4 linked regions of the Homo sapiens genome follow. The protein of the gene in region 2 interacts with the protein of the main gene of each other region in a biochemical or structural test. Each region holds a gene or a part of one and is shown on either strand. Other genes may lie near its edges.

The links.
Region 1: the proteins of RAF1 (region 2) and XIAP form a complex in vitro, tested with the Homo sapiens proteins (one study listed by BioGRID).
Region 3: of the proteins of RAF1 (region 2) and TRIM22, one has a biochemical effect on the other in vitro, tested with the Homo sapiens proteins (one study listed by BioGRID).
Region 4: the proteins of RAF1 (region 2) and LOX form a complex in vitro, tested with the Homo sapiens proteins (one study listed by BioGRID).

The regions. Positions count from the first base shown.
Region 1 is NC_000023.11:123,866,553-123,870,052, reverse strand, and holds part of XIAP (E3 ubiquitin-protein ligase XIAP), read right to left. Parts: intron 1-3,500.
Region 2 is NC_000003.12:12,608,618-12,612,117, reverse strand, and holds part of RAF1 (RAF proto-oncogene serine/threonine-protein kinase), read left to right. Parts: intron 1-55; coding exon 56-168; intron 169-2,782; coding exon 2,783-2,885; intron 2,886-3,194; coding exon 3,195-3,352; intron 3,353-3,500. UniProt on the Homo sapiens protein: Serine/threonine-protein kinase that acts as a regulatory link between the membrane-associated Ras GTPases and the MAPK/ERK cascade, and this critical regulatory link functions as a switch determining cell fate decisions including proliferation, differentiation, apoptosis, survival and oncogenic transformation.
Region 3 is NC_000011.10:5,688,482-5,692,589, reverse strand, and holds the start of TRIM22 (E3 ubiquitin-protein ligase TRIM22), read right to left. Parts: upstream 2,801-4,108; 5' UTR 2,691-2,800; intron 2,364-2,690; exon of another isoform or gene 2,294-2,363; intron 1,913-2,293; exon of another isoform or gene 1-1,912. UniProt on the Homo sapiens protein: Interferon-induced E3 ubiquitin ligase that plays important roles in innate and adaptive immunity.
Region 4 is NC_000005.10:122,075,460-122,079,595, forward strand, and holds the start of LOX (protein-lysine 6-oxidase isoform 1 preproprotein), read right to left. Parts: upstream 2,801-4,136; 5' UTR 2,527-2,800; coding exon 1,896-2,526; exon of another isoform or gene 1,543-1,895; coding exon 1,434-1,542; exon of another isoform or gene 83-1,433; coding exon 1-82. UniProt on the Homo sapiens protein: Responsible for the post-translational oxidative deamination of peptidyl lysine residues in precursors to fibrous collagen and elastin. Regulator of Ras expression. May play a role in tumor suppression. Plays a role in the aortic wall architecture.

The DNA.
Region 1 (3,500 bases), on a different chromosome or scaffold from region 2:
GGGCGGCAGAGGTTGCAGTGAGCTGAGATTGCGCCACTGCACTCCAGCCTGAGCGACAGAGCGAGACTCCGTCTCAATTAAAAAAAAAAATCAATCCTCTTTGGTTTAATGTAAGGTCAAAATTTAAGCATGGGCTTGTGTGATTCTATAGCTCATCTTCTCTTCTTTCACGATGTTACCTTTGATAATAACTAACATATGTAATGTGCTTTACAATTTAGAATGTTTTCATATATGGAATCTAATTTAACCTACATAATATATCATAGGCCTCATCTGAAATATGAGGAAACAGTAGTTCTGACTGTTACTCATCAAAGGTCATGCACCCAGTGATTATGACCAATATAGGTCTAAGGAAATTACTACAAGGATTACTGGCAGAAGGGACAGTCCAATGAGGTAGCAGAAAATGTTAGGCTTCCTTCCCTTTCAAGGCCTAAAAAATTAGCTAGAACCATAGAAAGGTTAAGTCACATGGTAATATATGCTGAGATGTCTGTGTTTTTTTTTTCTTTTCTTTATTTTTGAGATGGAGTCTCACTCTGTCATCCAGGCTGGAGTACAGTGGCATGATCTCAGCTCACTGCAACCTCCACCTCCCAGGCTCAAGTAATTTTCCTGCCTCAGCCTCCTAAGTAGCTGGGATTGCAGAGGCATGACCCAGCTTTTTTTTTTTTTTTTTTTTTTGTATTTTTTTAGTAGAGATGGGGTTTTGCTCTGTTGGTCAGGCTGGTCTTGAACTCCTGACCTCAAGTGATCCACCTGCCTCGGCCACCCAAAGTGCTGGGATTTCAGGTGTGAGCCACTGCGCCCAGCCAGATGTCTGTATTTCTGTATTTAAGGTGAATAAGATGATTACAGAAATAAGAATAAAATTTCAAACCATAATATTTTATAAGTACCAGGGAATGCACAATGGCAGCAGCCTTGTCCGGTTTAAGAAATCAGCTTTAATCCACTTGGTTCAACATCTGACCATCTGAGATCAAGCTATTCTCAGTCTGTACAGGTAAACGTGACTTTTCACTATGACCCATATCCTCGAAAATACATAAAACTATATCATAACAAGGTGAATCACATGTATCCATAACAAAGACTGGGTACCAAATCATACCAAAATCAAATCCCAAAATGTATCAAACAGCAGAGCTACAAATGTATCACAATTTAAAACAATAAAAGCCCATGCCAAGTCCTGCAAAATGGACATAAGTATGTTTTTATCATATAAAGGATAACCTATTATTAACCACATACAGAGCAGATAAAATATATAATCCATAAATTTGGCCTCAAATTCCTGTTTTTGTTTTTTGAGATAGGGTCTTGCTCTGTCCCCCAAGCTGGAATGGGGTGCCCTGATCTTGACTCACTGCAACCTCCACCTCCTGGGCTCAAGTGATCCTCCCACCTCAGCCTCCAGAGTAGCTGGGATTACAGGTGCACGCACAACCATGCCCAGTTAATTTTTCTATTTTTAGTAGAGATAGCATTTTACCATGTTGCCCAGGCTGGTCTTGAACTCCTGGACTCAAGGGATCTCCCTGACTTGGCCTCCCAAAGTGCTGGGATTAAAGGCATGAGCCACCATGCCTGGCCTGGGATTGTTATGTGGAATTTTTTTCCTTGACAAAATCTCAGATAATCAGGCTTAAAAACTATTATAATGGGTTTTGAATCGTTGGAATCAACTAGTCCTTAAGCCCAGCCACCCTGGGTTTTTTGTTTGTTTGTTTGCTTGTTTGTTTGTTTTGAGACAGGGCCTCACTCTTGTCACTCAGGCTAGAATGCAGTGGTGCCCTCATGGCTCACTGCCACCTTGACCTCCCGGGCTCAAGCGATCTTCACAGGCGCGTGCCATCACATCCAGCTAATTTTTTTATTATTGGTAGAGACGGGGTCTCACGATGTTGCCCAGGCTGGTCTCAAACAATCCTCCCACCTCAGCCTCCCAAAGTGCTGGGCTTACAGGTATGAGTCACCATGCCTGACCCTGTTACTTTACAGATGAAGAAAGTGCAGTATAAAATAATACACTGGATAAATAAAAAATGTATTTTGAAAGACTTCAGGCTGGGCGCAGTGGCTCATGCCTGTAATCCCAGGACTTTGGGAGGCCAAGGCAGGTGGATGACCTGAGGTCAGGAGTTCGAGACCAGCCTGGCCAACATGGTAAAACACTATCTCTACTAAAAATAGAAAAATTAACTGGGCATGGTTGTGCGTGCGCCTGTAATCCCAGCTACTTGGGAGGCTGAGGCAGGAGAATCACTTAAACCCAGGAGGCAGAGGTTGCAGTGAGCTGAGATTGCACCAATGCGCTCCAGCCTGGGCAACATGAGCAAAACTCCGTCTCAAAAAAAAAAAAAAAAAAAGGCCAGGTACGGGGGCTCACACCTGTAATCCCAATACTTTGGGAGGCCAAGGCGGGCGGATCACAAGGTCAGGAGTTCAAGACTAGCCTGGCCAACATGGGGAAACCATGCCTCCACTAAAAATACAAAAATTAGCCGGGCGTGGTAGCACATGTCTATAATCCTAGCTACTCAGGAGGCTCAGGCAGGAGAATCACTTGAACCCAGGAGGCGGAGATGCAGTGAGCTGAGATTGTGCCACTGCACTCCAGCCTGGGGGACAGAGTGAGACTCTGTCTAAAAAACCAAACCAAACCAAAAAAAAAAAAAAGACTGCTGGGCGCAGTGGCTCACACTTGTAATCCCAGCACTTTGGGAGGCTGAGGCGGGCTAATCACGAGGTCAGGAGATGGAGACCATGGTGAAACCCCGTCTCTACTAAAAATACAAAAACATTAGCCAGGCGTGGTGGCGGGCACCTGTAGTCCCAGCTACTTAGAGAGGCTGAGGTAGGAGAATGGCATGAACCCAGGAGGCGGAGGTTGCAGTGAGCTGAGATCGCACCACTGCACTCCAGCCTGGGCGACAGAGCGAGACTCCGTCTCAAAAAAAAAAACAGAAATGTTAACTATAGAATGTTGAAGGGGGGGGGGGGATTAAAACAACCTGTAGACAATATGATCGTCATTATTCTATTTCATAAATTTTCTATAATAAACACATATCTCTGGCCAGGCACGGTGGTTCATGCCTGGAATCCCAGCACATTGGGAGGCCGAGGCGGGCAGATCACATGAGGTCAGGAGCAAGACTCCGTCTCAGAAAAATAAATAAATACATAAAATAAAATAAGCCAGGTGTGGTAGCACACCTGTAGTCCCAGCTACTTGGGAGGCTGAGGCAGAAGAATCGCTTGAACCTGGGAGGCGGAGGTTCAGTGAGCCAAGATCTCACCACTGCACTCCAGCCTGGGTGACAGAGCTAGACTCTGTCTGAAAAATATATATATTATATATGTAATATATTTTACATATTATATTGTGTTATATATTATATATATTTTACATATATTGTATTATATATTATATATAATATATTATACATGTAATATATTATATACTATATTATATATATCATACA
Region 2 (3,500 bases):
TTTCCAAGGGGTGCTGCAGCCTGTGTTGGTCCTAAAGGTGGTCCTTTGTTTGTAGGTCAATGTGCGAAATGGAATGAGCTTGCATGACTGCCTTATGAAAGCACTCAAGGTGAGGGGCCTGCAACCAGAGTGCTGTGCAGTGTTCAGACTTCTCCACGAACACAAAGGGTAAGAGCTCAAAAGTCAATTGACTTCTTCAGACTAGTAAGGATCTTCTAGCTTCAAATAGCTATGTTTGTATTAAATTGTACTAGCTTCCTATAGAATATTGTATATTTCTATACCTTTCTTTATAAAGAGATAATTCAGAAAAATAGGTATTAAGAAATTGAAATTATTGCTTGGACATTCTCTTGAAAAGTTAAATACACGTTAAGCTGGGCCTGATGACCAATACCTGTAATTTTTTTTTCTTTTTGAGGTGGAGTCTTGCTCTGTCGCCCAGGCTGGAGTGCAGTGGCGCGATCTCGGCTCACCGCAAGCTCCGCCTCCCGGGTTCACGCCATTTTCCTGCCTCAGCCTCCGGAGTAGCTGGGACTACAGGCGCCCACCACCGCGCCCGGCTAATTTTTTGTATTTTTAGTAGAGACGGGGTTTCACCGTGTTAGCCAGGATGGTAATACCCGTAATTTTAACACTGGGAAACTGAGGCAAGAGGGTTGCTTGAGGCCAAGAGTTCAAGACCAGCCTGGGCACATAGCGAAGGCCCATCTCTACAAAAGATTTTTAAAAATTAGCCAGGCATGGTGGTGCGGCCCTGTAGTCCTAGCTGTTCGAAAGGCTGACGTGAGAATATTGCATGACCCCAGGGGCTTGAGGCTGCAGTGAGTCATGATTGTGCTACTGGACTCCAGCCTGGGCTGGAGCAAGATCCTGTCTATTAAAAAAAGCCAAAAAACAAAAAAACAAAAACAAACACATGTTAGGTATTGATAATGTTTCCATGGATGGAAACAGTGATGTTAGATGCTGTGTTTTTTTGAGACAAAGATTTTTCTTTGTGTTTACTCTAATGCATTATATAGACTGGGCACTCAGAAAGTGCATTATTTTATATAAAGAATGCTATCCTCGGGAGATTGACTTTTCTCATTCACTAATTTTTTTTTTTATTCAGTTAAATGTGTACTAATCCCTGCTGTTTGATAGATTGTTTAAAGATGCAGAAGCATTTCTGCTTCAGGGAAGATTCATGGTTTATCCTATTCCTAATGGTGGTGGCAAGATAGAGGCATCCCCTCAAAGGCTAGGAGTAATACCTCAAAGCAGCAGAGCTGTCCATAATTATCCATTATCCATTATTCCCTCCACCCCGAAAATATAGGGAAACCTTTAAAGGGTTCTTTTTTACCCTCTTCTTGGAAAGCGTCACTTATGTTATTCATCGTTAGCTTACATTTTTTCATGTTTCAAAGAGTTCTGCAGTTTGGGAGAATAGCCCAGGGAATGAATCTACTCGAAGGGGTGAGTGTAATTCTCAATTTAGGAGGCGTTTGTTGAAGTGCAAATCTTTGAAGCAGACGTTAACTTTTGCTGAAGGTAGCCCAGGTTGGGTCCCTAAGCCAATCCATAGTGTTCCTTAAGGACTAGAGAGATTCTGAGACAGGGAGGGCTTGGTCTACTCTCATCCAAGGCTGCACTGGTTTGGAGCTACTCTGGAGTCTCTAGGACAGACAGCAGATTGTCACTAGGATCAGTCTGCAGATTGATGAGAAAATAAGGCTTGTCCTCCTTCTCTTCATAAGGGCAAAATAGTCCTTTGGAGTTATAGGAAGTTTTCCAGGTGCTGTATAGGTAATTATATTAAGGAATGTATTGTTTACTGTTGGATAGTGAGAAAAATGGCTTGACTAGGCTTCTGGTAGATAATGGAGAGGCTTGAATGGTGCTATACATGTTATTTTCTCTTTACCTGAGAATATTCTTCCTTTGGAAAATGGGCCAGATTAACTGGATAAAACATAAGAAAGGAATTGGGCATTACTTTTTACTTATGTATCTATTTTTTGTCTTATTTATACTGTAGGCACAGAAAGTGTGGTTTCAGAGTAGATTTTAAGACAGTTAAGTTTCTCATTGACTTATAGACCCTACAACTACAGATTTGAGTCTGTTATTAATTAATAGAAAAGTACATTTTTCATTTGTGGTTCCTTTCTATTTATCTAGATTGAAATAGGCTACTGAAGACTAAATTTTGTACTGCAGCAATATTTATAATCCATTTTACAGGATTTGGGGATTTTTGTAAGATTTTAGTGTTACAAATTCCAATTTAACGTATATTGACTTTATTGTGAGATTTTATATATCATTGTTTAAAGAAAACTTTATTCTGGCCAGACATGGTGGTTCACACCTGTAATCCCAGCACTTTGGGAGGCTGAGGCAGGAGGACCGCTTGAGGCCAGGGATTCAAGACCAGCCTGGGCAACACAGCAAGACTCTCTCTCTACCAAAAAACATTTTTTTAAGTAAATAAAGAGAAAACTTTATTCTGAGAACATGGGCTTTGGAGTTCAACAGACCTAGATTCCAACATAGGCCCTTAAACTTGCTGTGTGGCCTTGAGCAAATTACCTTCTTAGAGTCCCAGTTTTCTTATTTTTCAGATAGAAATAATACCTACTTCATAGGTTTGTTGTATGAATTAAATAAATTATTGTTGTATGGATTAAATAAAGTTGTGTTTATATGGCATGTGATAAATGGTAGCTGTTGTTATTTCTATTGAACTTTGATCTTGTTTAAACATTTCATGTTTTTTTTAAATCCTTTCTAGTAAAAAAGCACGCTTAGATTGGAATACTGATGCTGCGTCTTTGATTGGAGAAGAACTTCAAGTAGATTTCCTGGATCATGTTCCCCTCACAACACACAACTTTGTAAGTTGCAGATCTCTTCTCTTTCTGGCATGTTGAGGGCTTTGCCAGGCATAACAGAGATTTCTCAGGTAATATGCGTATGTATATATATATATAGTTGGATTGTTTAAAGTTCTTTATGCTGTTGTTTACAGTAAGGCAATTTAGATTTCATTAGTCAGAGATATACTCTAATTTGTGATTATGAATTCTGTACATGCTGGAAGTATGATTCATTTTGTAAAAACTTTTTTGGAGGCCAAGAAATGAAGTTGTCTTTTGTCATCTTTTATTTATTCAGCATAATTTACACCTGTGTTCTTGTTGTAGGCTCGGAAGACGTTCCTGAAGCTTGCCTTCTGTGACATCTGTCAGAAATTCCTGCTCAATGGATTTCGATGTCAGACTTGTGGCTACAAATTTCATGAGCACTGTAGCACCAAAGTACCTACTATGTGTGTGGACTGGAGTAACATCAGACAACTCTTGTAAGGCATTGTTCTTTTATCCAAGGAAGATAGGGATGAGGAGTATACATACTTTAAAGGGTATTTGTTGTAGATTTTGACTGACAGGTCTGGATTCTAGACTCATTTAATGAATTGTGATCCAGAAACTACTTTAGAAACAGTGATA
Region 3 (4,108 bases), on a different chromosome or scaffold from region 2:
CATGCAGAAACCTGGAGAACTCAGAAACACCGTTACCACTTCTTATTTGTCTAAACTCAGAGTTCCTTTTTCAATGACCCACTAAAATGTCCAGGGTTTAGTTTTCCCCAAGTAATGACCCTTTTTCCAAGAGTTCTAACTCTCTGGTCAATATGTTTCAGATAAGTCATTTTGTAACAGAGGACAGATTTCATAAAGCTACCCCAGTGTCATCTCTTTCTCTCACAGTTAGTTCATCAGTTCTTAAATCCATCATTTTATTGAAGACTGCTCAAAATCATTGTCTCACAGTGAGACCTAATGTGAAATCTATTTAAAGTTGCAAAGCCCTTGACAAGAGCACTACAGATACCACATCCTATTGCAGCCCTTTTAGTTTGTTGCTTTTGTTTTATTGGTTTTACATTTATCCTCTAGTAACTGCTACCTTTTTGCTACATTAAAACTGCTGGTTTACTTCCTTTTTTTGACTGCGTGTTTACTTCCTTTTCCCTAGTCCAGAGCATAATCTCTTACCGGTATTTAATGTTGATTATATATCGAATAGATAGTTTTTTTGTTTTTGTTTTTGTTTTTTTACTATACCTGTATGCTTTTGTTTTGTGAATTTAGTCAAAAATATTTTTCAAAAATTAAAAGTACAGTTTTATTTATTGGGTCCTGTACTAGACTTGACAATGAATAAATACTAGATATGGACCTTGACAAGATGTGCGGTACAGACACATAAGGAGACAGTTACCTGGACCTCTGAAAAGTGAAACAAAGAAAAGGACACATCAGAATATGGGTGACATAGGCATCAAGGTACAAAATGCTCAGCGATAAGATCGAGATAAGACTCAGGAGAAATTACCAACTCCTTGCCTTAGCTCTGTGCAAGGGAAAATTGAGTAGGGAGTTGAGGTAACTCATGATGAAAAGGTGTACCTAGAATAATAGCAACTTCTAAAACAGGAGTGGATACCAGAGGTTCATTGGGTGCTACAGAAGTTGAGGGAGGAGACCACCTCTCATATTGTCTTATGCCCAATTTCTGCCTCCAAAGAAAGAAAAAGTAAAAACTAAAAGGCAGAAATGAAATCCACAAGCAGACAGCCCGGGGCCACACCCTGGACCTGGTAGTTAAAGATGGACCCCTGACCTAATTGGTTTGTTATCTATAGATTCCAGACATTGTATAGAAAAGCACTGTGAAAATCCCTACTCTGTTTTGTTCCGATCTAATTACCGGTGTATGCAGCCCCCAGTCACGTACCCCCTGCTTGCTCAATCGATCACGACCCTCTCACGCGGACCCCCTTAGAGTTGTGAGCCCTTAAAAGGGACAGGAATTGCTCACTCGAGGAGCTCGGCTCTTGAGACAGGAGTCTTGCCTATGCCCCTGGCCGAATAAACCCCTTCCTTCTTTACCTCGGTGTCTGAGGAGTTTTTTCTGTGGCTGGTCCTGCTACAAAGGAAGAGTAAGCTGTGGGTACTCAGAAGAACAAGTTCCCTGTGACTGGACCTTCAGAGACAAGAGACCAAAGTGGAGCTGCAGAGATGAGCAGCAGTCTGCCCGTCCTGCGGCCTCTCTCCTCGGACTAACCAGAGGGCTGCTAATTTATCAGGAAAGCTATGGACAGCATCCAAAAAGTTACCAGAAGGCAAGTAAAAGGATAACCTTCAAAAGGGCCTTACTTCTGAAGACTGAGTACCTAAGACTCCTTCGCCTCATACCCAGATCCAGATAAGGGCTCTCATCCCTGCTGAACCTCATCATGAGGTTGCTTTATGAAAAGTGAAAACAAAGCTTCATTGCACAGGCTTCTTCGGGAGAAAGGAGGAAGGAATTTGCTGCCTCTGAATAAAAGAAAATTCTGATCCACGTTGGCAAAATGGAAAAATCAAAATGACAGAATAGGAATGTGGGGTATGATAAGGTTTCTCTTCAAATAGCCTGATCAATCCTTTATTCTTTAATTCACAGTGCCCCTCCCCACTTCACTTTTCTTCTCTTCTCTTTCCTTTCTGCTTTTGCTACATGCCTAGACATGTCACAGTACCAGGCGTTATCAGTACCAACTCACATTCCTTTCCTTATTTTGGAAGAAGATTAGTTATCTAGCTCATCACACACACCCCTTCCCCATCTCCCCTCTCTCCCTCACGTGCCCACCTTATCTAAAGAAAGTTAAAATGTTTAGCCAACTGAGTCTAGTTTAGATTGTGTGGCCGACTCCAGCCAATGGGGAAAGGGCAAAGGGGTAGGATTTGCGTCAGGAATAAAAACTTTCTTCCTCCTTTGTTCTAGTGTGCTCTCATGGCGACTGGCAAAGAAGAAGCACCCCTCTGCACAGAAATAAAATTGCTTTGCTGAGAAATCCTTTGTTTGAGTGCTCGTCTCCCTTAAGATTCTGAGCTTTATTTCCAACAAGGAAGGTGATGGAGGTACCTAGATTGAAGAAATGAATGGTCCCTCTAGGAAACAAGCAAGGCTTTTTGCTTTTGCAAACCTCTCTTCTTTAAAGGTTACCCCTCTCCCAGACTCAGTGCTTTCTTCCTCTGCCATCTCAGCAGACAGTTCACAAGCTGCCTCTTTTTGTTTATGCAGAGCAGCTTCAGAACTACAAATTAAACTCACCCAGACACAATCAATCTATTCTTCTCAAAGCCTCCCATTCTATGCTCCCACAGATTGCTCCACTCACCTTCAGTCCAAAGCAGAGGAGTCTTGAATCAGGGGAGAAGAGTGAAGGCAGGGCAGGAGCCGGTGTAAACCAGATTCACTCACCAAGCCAGAGGGCTGGTCTCCACAAATGAGTTTCCCCACAGGAGCTGAGTGAGAAACGAAAGTTAAATTCTCAGAAGTGAAAGAAAACAAAGGAAGCTGAACAAGAACTTACATAACAATAAACCCTGGGGAAAGTAATGCTACATTATGTTCTAGCATCTGCTGTACTGGCAAGGCACTCAGTCACTACTTCCTTATTCTTACTGTGGTTTACTCAAGCAAGAATATTTGAATAAAAAGAATGTGAATTACAGTTATACAGCTTGCCTGAATACTTAGAATTCCAATGCAGTCCTATAATTATTAGTCGAATTTATCTTATATTTAAGACCTAAGCCAGGAAAATAAAGATCCAGAGACTTGGGACCTAGCTTCTTGAAATGCAGTCTGACGAGGAAGATACTCAGTTATAAAGCTCTACAAATTTGGGCTGACAAGATGAGTATTAGCAGCTGACATTGTGAATGGTAAAAAAATTATTTTTATAAATAAAAGGATCTTTAGTGTGAGCCCATTGAAAAAAATGTTCTCAAAATGTCATTAAATCTTAAGAGTCCATCAATTAATTATCACTTCCTGCTCCTAATCCAGACAGACCAGATGAGGATGGATTCCAGAGAGTAATAGAGGTAAAACTGTGTCAGTGTCATGTTACCCAGCCACTGAGGCAGGTGAGAACATGGAAGTTAACAGATGATGCTGTTTAATTATAATCATTCATTGAGTTACTCTCATGCCTTCATAATTTTTCCACTTTTCCCTGCTTCTCTAAGAAAAGTTTGGTCATTTTTACACAATCAATTAAAAAGCAGCACTGAAACATGTTATACGTCATGCACATACTTCTGTACCCTGTTGTCTATTGTATTCTTGTTTAACTGCATGTGCCAGATAATGCCATCAAAAACTGATGGAGGCCTGTGGTGTCTCATGCCTGTAATCCCAGCACTCTGGGAGGCCCAGGTGGGTGGATCACTTGAGTCCAGGACTTCAACACCAGCCTGGGCAACATGGTGAAATCCCATCTCTAAGAAAAATTAAAAAAAAAAAAATAGCTGGGTGTGGTGATGTGCACCTGTAGTCCCAGCTACTCAGGAAACTGAGATGGGAGGATGGCTTGAGCCCAGGAGGTGGAGGTTGCATTGAGCCAAGATTGCGTCATTGCACCATAGCACTGCAGCCTGGGTGACATAGTAAGACCCTGTCTCTACAAAAAACAAACAAACAAACACCACACAACACATACACACACACACCCAAAAAAAAAGAAAAAAAAAGGCAACTCATGGAGCTTCCATAACATGGATCCCTGACTGACACTATGGAGCATGGCCA
Region 4 (4,136 bases), on a different chromosome or scaffold from region 2:
TGTCCCTTGGTTTTTCACTCTTTGGGGAAATCTGAGCAGCACCCTGTGATCATAATCTCTGACATCTGCCCTGTATGCTGTACTGTGATTTTGAAAAAAGAAAAATTATTATATTCATGGAATATTAACTAAAGACAAAACTACAAATAAAACATCCATTATATAGTAGTGACAATCCTCCTTTCCCAACTAGACTATCAGTTCCAAGAGTCTAAGGCATTTTGTTTCTTTTTGTTCATTGCTGAATCCAAAGCTCCTAGAACCGTCTTGGAGTAGTCAGAGCTCAATGAATATTTGGTGAATAAGTGAATGAATAACACCTATGGAAATCCACAGATCTTAACAGTAAAAACATAATAAGCATTAAAAATCTAAATGTCAGAAGTAAACTTTAGAATCAATTCAAGTTTGATCATATGAATGAGTGAAACTGAAGTGGAAATAATCCCCCAATAAAAAAAATAATTCATAGATGTTTATTACAAACTTCAAACTTAACAAAACTTTTAAAAAAGTTAATGAGCTGCAAACTGAGGAAATAACTCTAAAAGAGCATACCCAGATTTAAATTAATAATTTTGTAACTTCACTATCCCAAAACAATGGCAGTACTGTAAAAACATCATAGGGAGTTCAATGGTGTGAGTGATGCAAGACTCAGGAATGAAAATGAGCTTGGATTTCTTCACTTCCTTTAGCCTGACAATTATAAAGGGTCAAAGTGGAAGAAATGTACAAATAAACATCACTGTGTTCCTACTAATATATTTAGTGTGTCTATATGTTCAGGTGGTATTGATGACCTTATTTTACACTTTAAATTTTTATTAAAACATCTTTTGCTCCCTCTGCTGTTTCCCAGCAGTAAACCCAGAGAACCCCAATCCCAGAGTTACTATTTTATTTTAGAATAGTGGAAAAACAAAGCTCTTGCTCACGGTCTTATTCTGGCTGAAGTAATACCAAAACAACCAAGTTCATCGTGGTCTCAAACAAAAGAGGAAAACTTAGTCTTTACCAATGAGGCTACGATGGCAAATTTGCCCCGAATCTTTTAAGGGGGTATTAACACACCCTTCCATTACAATAAATTTTTTGAATTACTGTATAGTTGTTTTATGAAAAGTGATTGGAACAATTGACTCCCAAGTTTAAGTATCTTGGAAAAAGAGCATGAGACTTTCAGTCTCCAGGATAAGGGTTTCCTCCACCTCTGTGATTCCTGCTGCACTTTGAGACAGAACCCACAGAAATCTTCAAAAATATTAACTCTCCGTCCAGGTCAGCATGCCCAGGAGGTCACGTCCCACTTCCCAGCTCTTGTCCCACTTCCTAACACTTGTCTGCGCGAAGCAGTAGCAGTCAGAACCAGGCACCAGAGCGCCCCCTGAAGGTAGACCGGGGAGCGGGGCCTCAGACATATCAGCCCGTACCTGGCCAGACAGTTTTCCTCCGCCGCGCATCTCAGGTTGTACATGGACATCTTCTGCACGTACGTGGACGCCTGGATGTAGTAGGGGTCGGCCACCAGGTCTGGGAGACCTAAACGTCAGCAGGCGACGGGCGCAGCAGTGAAACAACCCGGCGCCCCCCGCTCCAACTCCCTACCCCTCTAGGTCCCTTACTCCTCACCCTTCGCCCACCGGGACTGCAGAGTGGAGCGGAGGACAGCAAGAGAACTGGGGACGCCCGGGACTGCAAAGCAATGTGAAAAGGAAGCAGGAGGGGCCAGACGCGCGGTTTGCACTGGATTCCAGGGCTGCCACTGCAGGCGCGTGGGGGAGGGATCGGATCTGCGAGGACCGGGGCCCGCCGCGCCCAGGCAGCCACGTCGAGAAGCCACATAGCTGGGGACCAGGTGCACGGGTGCTTCCAGCGGACTTGGGGGTACTTACCGTACTGGAAGTAGCCAGTGCCGTATCCGGGCCGGTACCTGCCCCCAGGTCTGGGCCTTTCATAAGTATCGTAGTAGTTGTAATAAGGGTTGTCGTCAGAGTACTTGTAGGGGTTGTAAGGGTCGTCGCCCACCATGCCGTCCACGCGGCTGGGCGGCCGCAGGTTACTGAGCGCAGGAACTTCTCCCGGCGCTGTCTGGTTCTCCGCGCGCGAGGCGCCAGCTTCGCGGGCTCTAGATGTCGAGTAGCCAGCTTGGAACCAGTGACGGGCGGTGGGCCTGGGGCGGCCAGCGGTGACTCCAGATGAGCCGGCCGTCCGCGTTCGCGCCGCGGCGGTGCGGTTGTCGCGGATCAGCAGGATCGGAGTGCGGGGCTGCTGGGCGGAGGCGTTGGCTGCACCAGGGACGGCGGCGCCCGGGTCCCGGCGGCGCTGAGGCTGGTACTGTGAGCCCAGGCTCAGCAAGCTGAACACCTGCCCGTTGTTCTCCCATTGGATCTGCTGGCGCCAGGCGCCCGGAGCCGCCGGCGGCTCGCGCGGGGGCTGCTGTTGGCCGGCGGCGGGAGGGGCGCAGTGCACTAGCGCGCAGAGCTGCAAAGGCCCGAGCAGGAGCACGGTCCAGGCGAAGCGCATCACTCCTTTTGCCAGATTGACCCCGCTCGAGGAGGACGTGGCTCACAGAAAATAAAAACGGGGCTCAAATCACGTGAGGGAAGGAGAAATCTTCAACCAAGGAGGCGAGCGGAGCACGGGTATCTCAGTCTCCACCAAGCAATGCCAAGGGTGGGATTCAGACCCTTCCCCAGTCAAGGCGGCTGCTCGGACGTGGCACCCTTCCCTTTCCCCTTTCTCAGTCCTGGAAGGCAACGGGGAGCGGCGCGGCAGTCCCGGAGAGCGGGCAGTGTCTGGAGTGAAGGAAGGAGGAGAGATTTTAAACTTTCTGGCACGTTTGCAAAGTTACACAAGCCGTTCTGGCCCGGCCGCCCCTCAGCTATTTGTTCACGTAATGCGATTGGAAACGTGCAAGGCGGACAGCTCCTCGCCTCTGCCCCTCCCTCTCTCCCGTCCCTGCCCTCCTCCCCCCAGACACGTTGCACAGGGAGCGTTAAGGGGAAAGAACAAAACGGAACACACATCCTGAGACACACTGGCTTAATCTGGGGCGAACATGCAGGAATTTCAAAAAACTCAGACAGGCGAAGGCAGCCAGGCCATGGGGCGACGCCAAAATATGCACGAAGAAAAATGCTATTAGGTCACCAGCCCTTGAGAGGCGGGAAGTCGGGAGGTTGGGAGGGTGCTGGGGGTGAGAGGGGGGCGGGGGAGGATTGTGACTAAAGTTTATCCATAAAAGAGTTAACCAGACACATTTCCCAACGCACACTCTCTCGCTTTTATGGGAAGCGCCCTCAGCAAATAAACCCCAGGATATCAAATTTTGTTTTTCTGTGTGTAGGTAATATGAGAAATGGGTTACAAATTTATTTCCTACAGTGAATATTTTAATAACCAAAAGTGAAATTGTACAGGGAACAAAGCCAGCTAACGCTGCAGCTATGAATAAACCTGTCTCTTTTTCAAAATGCCGGCCTGATTTGTACTTTGAGTAGAAGTGGAGAACCATCTTTCATCTCCACAGTGTCTACAAGGAAGATTCATTAAAGACTAGAACAAGTCTGCATGAGAAAGCACTCAGAAGGCATCTTCACATATGCATTTTATAAGACATTTTTCTCCTTCATCTTATAAAGAAGTTTGACTTTGGATTTAAAAAAAAATTAAATCACCTCTGTTAAATACTGAAAGTCAGTAAAACATCGCATGCTGTTTAATTTATCTTCCAATCTAAACAAAGAAGTTGCTGAAGAAACAGCCTTAGAGTTTAGATTTTGGTAAAGAGAAGGAAGTAGGAGTGGTCAGAAAAGAATATAGGTGGGGGATAAATTATGCTGACTGGAAAGAGATACATAATGGACGAGTTATTCATATACCACTCAGGGTTTGGGCAGTGCTAGAAACTTTGCAACAAAAAATGGTTACTAAATGGTCTGATTTAACACTACTACTCAAAACCAGATTTTGGTAACCATTTTATTGGTCTCATCATTGGGCTATTGTCCAGACATACTTCAATATTCACATACCTCTGTTAGTCTCTGTCTCTCCATATTTAATCACCACATTTTGGTGGTGTGGTGGACCTCTGCTGATTTTGACTGCCTCACATCCATTTTCCTTTTCTT